2 separate regions of the Homo sapiens genome follow, and region 1 is linked to region 2. A link means that fine-mapping ties the variant in region 2 to the expression of a gene that starts in the linked region. Tissue or cell type: testis. Region 2 holds a variant in brackets; the other region holds the start of a gene. All regions are shown on one strand. Distances are from middle to middle. Region 1 holds the start of TBILA (TGF-beta induced lncRNA). Region 2 holds the start of C3orf52 (chromosome 3 open reading frame 52).

What was found. PIP is the estimated chance that this variant, and not a neighbour inherited with it, causes the effect.
Region 1: it holds the start of TBILA, and the variant in region 2 is fine-mapped to the expression of TBILA in testis (GTEx, PIP 0.94).

What each region holds. Positions count from the first base shown.
Region 1 is chr3:112,131,196-112,136,578 of GRCh38, reverse strand. TBILA (TGF-beta induced lncRNA) reads right to left here and starts at 3,156. Exons shown (of 1, transcript NR_157393.1): 1 at 1,220-3,156. GCSAM (germinal center associated signaling and motility) reads left to right here and starts at 3,331. Exons shown (of 6, transcript NM_152785.5): 1 at 3,331-3,487. The coding sequence starts at 3,459. It also overlaps a transcript of C3orf52 not described here. RefSeq lists enhancers at 1-11, 3,006-3,185, 3,666-3,725.
Region 2 is chr3:112,081,919-112,087,301 of GRCh38, reverse strand. It overlaps C3orf52 (chromosome 3 open reading frame 52), which reads right to left and starts at 913. Exons shown (of 6, transcript NM_024616.3): 1 at 757-913. The coding sequence starts at 894. RefSeq lists silencers at 999-1,048, 1,069-1,118, 1,169-1,218 and an enhancer at 735-1,251. The variant T/C (reference allele first, on the strand shown) is at 2,369.

The sequences.
Region 1 (5,383 bases), 49 kb before region 2:
AATGCTTCATTTAATTTATTGATGGGAGGGTTTTCCTGAATTTCAAATATTTACAGAATAAGAAAATTTACCACCCTAACATCTTTCCTAGAGTCAATTACATGAGGGATTCATGAAAAAAATTAATGGAGCTACTATTGGGGAAATAGAATTAAAAGCAAAATCTCCTGCTATTTCAGAAAACCTCACCACAAAAATAGAAGAGAAAGAAAACACTTTTATTTCTGAATATTCAACCAGAATGTAATGCACACCACAGGCAATCCCCTAAAGAGATTACTAAAACAGAAAGAAATCTTCCCCTTTTATATGCCAAGAAGATATCCTCCACTGCACACATTTTCTCAAGACAAACAATGACTAGTATTCACATAAGAGGACTTGACAGCACCATTTGTCACATAGCGTTTATCTGAAATTATTTTTGTAATATATTTGCTAATTGCCCTTAAAAACTAATTTCTCATTTCTTTTTGGTTGGAGGTAGATTTGCAATTTGGAGTCAGGTGTCAACTGAAGTTAGACTCCAGAAAATTGTATTCTGGAATACTTGAGCATGGAGACTGCACATGGACATTAGGGTGTGTGCTCTGAGATAAACGAAAGCTACAGTGAGAGAACATAACCAATCCCAAAGATAATTTCAAAGAACAATGACAGCAAAGGTTAGGTGGGAGTAGTATTTGACAATGCTTATTTGATATTGTCTCTCAGAGCTGCAAACTAGATTATACAAGTCATTAGCGTCAGATAGCTTTAAAGTTGTGACCTTCCTTTACATGAATTTTCTAGCCAGTTTCCTATCCTTTGCAAGAGGTAACAAAACATGAAACCCTAGAATGTGTGAGTTCAGGCATTAGGTATATAATAAGGAGGCTCTCTGTCCAGGGCTGCTTTCTGTCTTGCAGGGGCTAGTGAGTCTTGTGTGTTTTTATTTTATTCTCACATTTGTGTTTTTTTAGAAAAGTGAATGATCAATAATGGCTTATCTTTTATAATAAAATCTTCCATTTTTAATAAGGTGCTCCTGGAAATCCCTCACAGAGCCAAAAGGAAGTTTGGAGAGCAGCCATAAGGATAAGAATGATGTGAGATGAATCTGGGGTTGCACAGCTAGTACCCTAGTTTCTCTGAAATTGTTTCTTCTAAGCCCACTCCCCATCCTTCTCCTGCCTGTTTTAGATATGACCTTTACATTACTCAAGGACAAGCAATAAAATATTTTGCACTTTGTTTTATTTCTTTCAAGGAACTTCACAAGAGCAGTCCTGTATCTGCTTTTCTTACCATTGAACCTACAGTGCCCAGCACATAGTAGGCACTCGACACATACTTGTTAAAGGAATGAACAAACAGATGAGTGACCAAACTGGAAACAACCATCAAATACAAGGATAATACAAAAATCCATGATTCCTGTCCCGAGATTTCTTTCTTTTTTAACCTTTTGTCTGTTGAGATTCATTTATGTGCAGTGAAGTGCACCCTTATTAGTATACAGTTCTGTGAATTATGAGAAATGCATACAGTCATGTGGGCACTAACACAATCAAGATAAAGAACAACAACAAAAAATTTCCTCCTGTGCTTTGAAAGTCAACACCTCCCCCACCTTTTGCTCCTGGCAACACTAATATGTTTTCTGTTCCTGTGGTTTCACCTTATCTCTAATGTCACAGAAGGTAGGCTTTAAGTCTGGTCTCTTTCACTTAGTGTAATGCATTTGAGATTGATCCAAGTTATTGCATGTATTAATAGTCCACTCCTTTTCAATGATGGTCAGGATTCTGTTGTGTGGATGTAATATAACACAGAGCTTATTTAGCAATTCACTCAATGAAGATCAGTTGGGCTATTTCCAGGGTATTTCGGCTATTATGAGTAAAGCACATATAAAAATTTGTACACACAGTCTTAGAGGACATAAGTTTCACTTGGCTAAATGCCTAGGAGTGAAATTGCCAGGTTGTACAGTAACCCTATGTTCAATTTTATAAGAAATTGCCATACTTCTGAGATGGGAGAGTTCCCTTGACCCCTTCTCGGGACTTGCGACAGGGGTGTGGCCTACTTACTTGGCCACCACCATGCTCAAACTCTCTGTGGGAGCGGGAGCACGCAGGCAAGCGGGTGCCAGGGCTTCGATGAGCACTTTTGGGCTCCAGCCCAACAGCAGCATTTAGGGATGTGTTACAATTCATGCTCTTTTAGCAGTTGCCATCCGTGGACAGCTAAGTGTTAACCCACTCAATGGAGAGTCAGGGTGGCAGCCTTTTACACCCTGCCCTGTTGGTACCCAGGTTCTTGTTCAGCATCCAGGAAGAATCAGGTTGCATGAATGGTTTGAAAGTTGATGGATGTGGACGATTTTATTAAATGGTGGAAGTGGCTCTCAGTGGAAGGGGAGCTGCAAAGGGGATGGTGCAGGAAGAAAGTGACCTTTCCCTGAAGTCTGCTGTCTCTGGCCGGGCTCCTCCCTGAAGTCATGCCACCTGAAGTTAAGCCACATCTCTGACACTCAGTTGCTTCTTCTCCTCTTGATGTTCAGCCGCTTGTCTGTCTGCCAGCTGAGGTCTGGGGTTTATATGGGCACGGGATAGGGGGGCTGGACAGGCTAAAGAGTAACATTTGGGCAGGATAACAGGGATAACTGTTCTCATTTAGGGCTTCGGTTTCAAGGCTTGAGGGTGGGACCTTTGCCAGTGAACCACCCTCTTCTACCCAGTAAAGCCCTGCCTTCTGTCCTTATCACTTCTTTCCAAAAAGGCTGTCATTTTGCATTCTCATCAGCAATGCATGAGACTTCCAGTTGCTTTGCATACCTTGCCATACTTGATATTGTCAGGGTTTTATAGCCATTGTAATAAGTATGTAAAAGTGTTCCATTGTGGATTTGATTTACACTTCCCTAATAACTACAATGTTTAGCATCTTTTAATGTTCATCTGTATAGTTCCTTTGGTGAAATGTCTGTTCAAATATTTTGCCCATTTTGTTACTGGGTGTTTGTTTTCAGATTTGAGAGTTGTTGATACTATATTTTCTACAGGTCTGTGGCTTGACTGTTTTAACCTCCTTCTGACTTTTCTAAGAAGACAACGTGATTTATAAACGTAAATATCTGTAGTGGAAAAACTCCCATGGCCCATCTGTAATTTCAGACCTGGGATTCCCCAGAGGTTCGAAGCTCTCATTGACGGGTAGTTGCTGGTTATGGCCAACAGCCAGGTTGGTTCAGGCACTGACATGTTAGGACATTCTGCACATGCGTGCCTCTAACACTCCTCCCCCAGCCTCTTCCTTCCCTCTGCAGAGACACCCTTCTCCTTTCTGCTGTCTCTGCACGGGTGGCCAGAGCCACACAGCCCTTTCTTTAAGTCAGGAGTTGCCCTGTCAGAGCACAAGGCAAGAAGGAAGTGGTAAAGGGACGGAGGGGAAGCCCTGAGAGGACTGAGAGGATGGGAAATTCTCTGCTGAGAGAAAACAGGTAAGTCTAGACTCCCTGTGGGAGAGCAGAGGAGATGGGACAGGACAATACAGCAAGGAAGAGAAAAAGAAAGCTAGTATACAGTTAGCACACTAAGTTGGGGTAGAAAGTAGTTGGGTAAGGAAACTGCCAAGCCTTCAGTGCCTACTCTGTGCCAGATACCACATTAAATTTCCCATAGGTTTTGCCTTCTCCCAAGAATCATGGTGAGCAGCTGATGGAGAATAGCTGAAAGGTGGAAAGACTTTACCAAGGAAGGTCTATATAATAGGTTACCACCTAAGAAATGAAACAACTTTCTGAAAGCCCGGGAAGGAGATGCTCTCCTGAGCTCCTCATGCTCCACAAGGAGGTCAAAATCACCACCCTCTTTCAGCCACTATTTTAAGTTTGAAATAAACAGCAAGCTTCCTGCCACCTTGAGTCTTCCTTTGATGTGCACTCCCTGCAAGCAGGTAAGCAGAGGTCATCTAGATTAAATAGGCACAGAACTCAGATTTACTTTCTGGACCTCAGCCTCTTTATTTTAAGTAGAAATAATAATACAATATCTACCTTAGAGAGTTCTAGTGTGTATTGTGCTAGCATAGTGCCTGACATAAAGTAGGGTTCAAAATTAGAAGATATTTTCTGCTTTCTTTTTCTGACCATCATCTTCCTTAATATCAAAGCCGTGCCACCAAAATAGTGCCACCACAGACAAGGTAATCTCTAGGGTATAAAGTGGGGTGATCTAGAGAGAGTAAGCGAGCCAGAGGGGGTCTTCACAGGGTTATGTTTGGAATCCCTGGTCTCAGTTCATGCTACTGGAGAGTGGAACACAGGAAAAAATGGTAGCCCACTTTTGACCACTTGCCGAAAAGAGGATTGGTGGTCCTGTGGAATATCTCATGTCCCTTCCTAAGAATCATGTTGTCTGAGACTTCTCTACCCTGGGTTGTCACAGCCCCTTGTCAATCTTCTACTCTAGCATTGTTCTAACAATTATATAAATTACTATTTTTATTACTAGATATGAGATGCTCAAATGTAGTGATTGTTTCTTATTTATCTTTGAATTCCTGGTTCCTGGCATTGTTTCTGGCATATCACGTGCACTGAATAAGTGCAAAAAAACTTTAAAAAAATTTTTTTACTTTAAAATTTTGTTTTATGTAAGAAAAAAAACCTTTTTCCAAGGTGCACACATCTTATGCTATTTGGACTTCTTATGGTTTTTTATTTATTTTAAAGAAAATTCGATTTTAAATCTAGAAAGCTTTTTGGTTTCTGCCATTGCATTCATGCTTAAAATTCTTTGCTCTTCCTAAGATAAGACAAATCAACTCACATAAGTTTTGATTTTGTTATTTTACATTTGGCAACATATATTCAATATATGGTGTCAGATGTAAATTTTTTTCCAAATAGTTGATCAGTTTGCCCAACATCTTTATTTCTATGATGATTTAAAAGGTCTCCCTTGAACCAAGTGCAGTGGCATGCACCTGTAGTCCCAGCTACTCAGGAGGCTGAGGCAGGAGGATTGCTTGAGCCCAGGAGTTTGAGGGCAGCCTGAACAACATAGCAAGACCCAGTCTTAAAAATAAATTCATTAAAATAATTAAATAAAATGTTTCCGTTAACGTATTCAAAAGTCTTGTATATATTGGTATCTAATTTTCATTGTCACCCCAACACCCAGTTATCATCTAGTCAGCATACCCCCCCAACCGTGTCTCTCCAGATCAAATAAGCTAAGAAGTCAGGGAAATTTTGCACAGAATAGAATGGCACTCATCCCTTCATGAGAGGAGCTCAGTCTCAGAGGAAGAGACCTGCCAGCAGCAAACCCAGCTTTTCCCCCTTAGTGGCTGTGGATCCTCAGACCAGTTGCCTAGCATTTTGGGCCTCAGT
Region 2 (5,383 bases):
GGACTTCCTTAGGGATTGAGAGGAGGTAAAAGCAAGGTGGGCGAAGTCTCAACCTTCGAGACAAGAACTTTGAAATTATTTTCTTTCAATTGAGCAGGGCAAGTTCACCTCCCCCGCGCCGACCCCCTAACCCGCCCGCCCCATCTCTACGCCAGCCCTACCCCTTCTCCCCTTCTGACCGCTTTCTCTCCTCTGTGCTCTCCCCTATCTCTCTTCCGGCAGAATCCAATGGCCAGGCTGGGAGAAGGCAGAAAGTGCTTGGCGGATGGTAGGCATGGAAGAAGGCTGGGGGCTGCGGCGAGGTGGGTGGAGGGGAGGGAGAGAAGTGGCAAGGCAGTGAAGGTAAGAGGAGGACAGAAGAGATTCTGAGAGAAGGAGGATACTCAATTTGTCATTCTCATTCTCCCTACTGGAAAAAAGAAAAACTGAATTAAAAGTTACATAACTTTAAAAAACTACTTCCATCTCCGGAATACCTCTCTGAAGACAGCAGCGGCCACACCTCACCACTAGGATTCCTAAAGCGCCTCGGGGGTCAGAGGGGTTGGAGGACCCCAGGGGCTGGGGAGGGGACTGCTCGGGCCGAAAGGTGTCGCGGTGACTCGGCTCCATTCAGAGCACTCGAGCGCGCCCCACCCTCGCTCGGCGCCGTCGACGCCCCGCCTGACTGGAAACCCGAAACTCGCGGGTGCCAGGCCCGGGTCCTACTACTGTCCCGCCGCCGGCAAGTTAGGGCCAGCGCCAAGGGGACCTTACCTCGGCCGGGGGGACCTCCTCGTCCAAAGAAGGGAAGACCTTGTCGGCACCATTGAGAGGCGTGTTCTCTTCTGGCTGCCGCTCGAGCACCGAGAGCTCCAGCTCGTCTACTGGCTGTGAGGGTTGGGCCAGGTCCATGTGCCGGCAGGGAAAGTCTGAGCGGCTCCGCGGGAGGCCACAGCGCCGGCGAGTCGAGCGACCTCCCCGCCTCACACTCCACCCACTGGGCGGGGCGTCGCGGACCTCGGGCGGCGGGAGCGGACCGGAGCGGACAGGAGGGGCAACTGTGAGTGGCGGCCACTCCCTGGATCCCGCGGGGTAGAGCACCTGAGGCCGTGCCGGAGTGGGCTCCAGAGCCGAAGGCTGTTTTTCTGATTTGTTCAGGGCGCTGCCTGCTATGCCTTTCCCCGCGCCTGCAGATGCAGACCATCTCCGTTTAGGGGCTGCCTGGGTGCCGGGCTGTGGTAAGGAAAGGGTGGGCCCGGCAGCACCGTCCAACGGAGAAAAGTTTGCGATCTAACCCTACGAACTGTTGGTTGTTGGGGTTTGCCACAGTCCTCGCGGCCTAGCAAAAGTGCATTCATTCAATCAACAAATAACCATGCCTCGTGCCAGCATGGTGCTAGGTTCTGAGTGCATGAAGGTGAATAATATACACCAACACACTTCCTCGCAAGTCCAGAGTCAGGCACAGAGACAGTATTGTGTGGTGCTGGGGACAGCGGACTCTAAAACCAGTGTACCTGGGTTATTCTCCACCCAGAGGGTTCCTCACTGTGAGACCTCGGTCTTCATCTCTCTGTGCCAACGTCCTCATCTGGAAAGTTGGTGTAATATTTGTACCCTCCTAAATGTAGTTGTTACCAGGATTACAAGGGTTGTTGTAAGCAAAGCACTCAGAACAGTGATTGACACAGCAAGCACTCATAAATGACCATTATTATTTATCTTTGAGAGGAGGGGCCTTACACACACACACACACACACACACACACAATGCACGCGCACACACAATCTCCTTGACACCCTATCTGTAGTTCAGAACTTCCGGTTTAGTTAGCATGGAATTATGTTTGTTAAGCACAGCATGGGTTGGGCCAAGGGCCTCAACTCTCAAGCTTCTGTTCCGAATAGTCTTGCTCCTTACTTCTCACCCTCCACGCAACACACACACACACACACACACACACACACACATTAAGACCAGACCATTAACAAGAAGCATATAAATCAGCTCCACTCCAAATATGTTGACTTGAGTCCAAAAGTCTGGCATCTTCAGTACCTGATGTTGAGACACAGCCTAGATATCCTGTCTCCAGCAGTCTGATGCCTGCTACCAGATCCCCTGAACTTTGGATCCATCTGCCTGCTAAGGGGAGTCTGCAGTGACTCATCTGCTGACCTGCACTGACTTCTGCTCCAACAGGTGGATCTTGCAAGAATCAGGCTGCATTCTCAGCTGGGATTTTTGAACAGGTTTTTTAACCAAGGAGCAAGGGTTAAGGGAATCAACAAGGCATGGTGACGTACCCAGGGACTAGCAATAGCGAGAAGCTGTTAACACTCCTAGGCCTAAAAGGGACTGGAGACTGATAAAGAACTAGAGCCA[T/C]TGAAGGGTGTGGGAATTTGCAGGGAGGTCTTGATAGGATCTGTAGTCACGAAAACATGCAGACCTGACTGGAAGCACTGACACCTCTCAAACTTCTGATTCTCCCCACCCCCATCCTTACCCAGGGTCCAGAAAACTTTTCTCATAGTTCCCTTATTTGATTGCAGAAGTTCATCCTAAATGTGAGATTTTTTTCTCACTTCAGATGGATAGTAGCTATCTCCATGCCTGATTTCTCCATGCACAGATACCTAAAGCCTCCCTCACTCCCCCAGAGAATCAAAAAGCAACTGTTCCTGTCTCAAGCACACCCTAAACCACATCTTCTAATGCCTTTTGAGTACTGTTAAGCAAGGTTTATATACTCTGTAATTAGATTTAAATGCATTTCTATAATTCCATATGCCTAACCCTTGTTCTCATGTTACAGTGGAAGGAATATAAGTTCTGAAGGCAGACAGAACTAGGATCAAATTTAGACTCTCACTATCTGTGTGTTCTTGGGCAAGCTGTTCAATGTCTGCTTGTTTTCTTATAAAATGATTCCTACCTAGCAGAGTCAGGAAGATTAAGGTAAAGAATTTATTCCTGTGCCTGAAAAATGAAAGGATCTCAGTAAATGCTCCATTACATTCCCTGACTGTGTCTTTGTGGCTAATACCCACTCTCCCCCGACCCTTAGCACCCAGCACTAACCCTTGATTCAATATGTTTTCTTTTGATATTGGTTTTTCTTCCTGTGCTGTCCTATTTTCCTGATCACTGACACTTGCTGACACCTCCCATATTACCTGAACTAAATTCTTATTTGCAACCTGTTCCTGTTCCTGTTAACTGCAAATTTCTTAATCTCCAGACAGCTGACCTAGAATGCAGATGAGAGTCCCAACCCTACCTGAAGACTTTCTTCATCCTGCCAGTTTCACTCCACACTAAGGATTCAGAATAAGTTAGGAAGAGGTGTTTCTCCCTAGAGGTACAACCAAGTTTAGATTAAACGAGTCTGATGAAAGTCAAGAATTTGTGAATGAGGAACCAAACTCTACCTAGATTTGTTTTTGTAATTCCTTCAGAATTCATTTACATAAGGGTGGCTTTTTAAATATACTATTATTTCAAAAATAGATTTCTTTAATATAATTTAAAATTATTATTGACTCAATTGCTTTAGTTTGTTTGAAGTGTCTAATTTAAGTAACATTAAAAAATTAAAACATACTTATATTTGCTGACCAATATAAGATTTTTGATGTTGCTTTTTTTTAATAGTACTTGCTCTTCTTTTTAAATCCTTTTTAGAAGCAAATAATTTTCTAAATGGTTATCATATAAACTGAAAAACAAAGTAACATCATCAGAGTGATATCACCAATACACCAAAGGCATCTCATTCCCTTCAAATAGGTCTGTGACTCTGGAATACGCAACAGTTTGTTCCTGTGTGTTGTCAGATGGCAAGCAATACTACTCCGAACGTCAGCAACTGGGTCAGCCACTCAAGCTAATCAAGTAGAAAACAATTGAGAAATGGTTGCTTGTGGTGCTTCACTGTGCTATTTTCAAGGCACTGTGAAAGAAGGCATGAGTCCCTACAAGTTCTCCCTGATAATATGGCACGTGAAATGCTTCTGTCTTAATTTATGAAGGCCATTTTGCTCTGCTAACAAAACCATTCTTGGGACTTGCCTTACTTCACACCTTTGCAAGAATGAAGTGGATATTCCCACATCATTCAGGTTCTAAATGCATCTTAACATGCAATATCCAAGCAAGTTATGTTTGTTTTTCAACCTTTTCCCTGCCCCAGCACTGCTACAGCATATCGTGTACTCACTTTAATACCAGTGAGGGCCTATAGAGGTAGTACATACATGTGCTTTCAAAAACTCCCTCTGATGAATCTGATGGATCATGCCAGCCCTCCTCCATCCCCTAACCGAGATCACAGACTTATGCAAAGGTTTTCATGTATTTTGTGAAGAGCAATTCTATGCCCTAGAAATGACCATAAAGTAAAAAGTACAACTCACCTTGTATATAGGTCACAGCCATCCAGACAAAATAATGTAGATTATAAGAACTATCAGCCTAATTCGCTCTTCTATCCAGTGGATTCAGTAGCAAAGTCCTCCCTTTTGAATTAGTGGTACACTTGGCCCTCTGAATTGCACTATCGTATAGCCAGTTTACTGAAACCTTTGGGGCCCATTCATAGAGGTATTATTAAGATGCTTTATCCTTAATCTGAGGGAACAGTCTTTTAACAAATCAAAGTATATTCTATGAACTGAAAAATTTATCTGGCCTGGGAGATGACACCTTTTGCTCTCTCTCCTTTTGCTGTTACATTAAGATTTTCTAAGGTTCTGTGCATTATTCTATTAATAGACACTACCTGATGTTAGTATTTTTATTACTTCTTTGACTTTATAACAGGAAAACAAATAATATCACTCTTTTTTCTGTTGTTTTCACTCATTTGGTGGTACTATCAATTCTGGCTTCTGTTAATGAAAAGAATATTCTGAGATCAAGTATGAAACCTTCTAAATCAAGATAAAATAAATCAAGAACTAAGATACATTGAGAGTGTGCTATAGGCTTACAACTATGTAAGGTATTATAAGAGTCTGAAAGTAAAAGAAAGTCTCATCCACTGGGGTTTTAAAAAGAACCAAAAGCCAGATGATAATATTTCTGAAAAATTTCACTTTTGCAACAATCATTCAAAAATTTCTTTGCCTTTTTTTTGCTGACCAGCATTACAACAATTTCTTTGAATCTCATATACATGCTTTCGATTCAATTACCATGATGCTTTATTCTGCCATTTAGTAATGGTTGCTGTCAGTTTTGTTGGTTGGTTGATTGGTTTCTCTGTACACAACATTACCATGTGCCATGGCTGAAGATGGTCCACTATGATATGTTTAGATAAAATTGGTTTGTAAAGCAACAATATAGGTACTTATTCTGTCGATAACTGAGTTTTGCTTCATTTGCATTTGCAAAGGA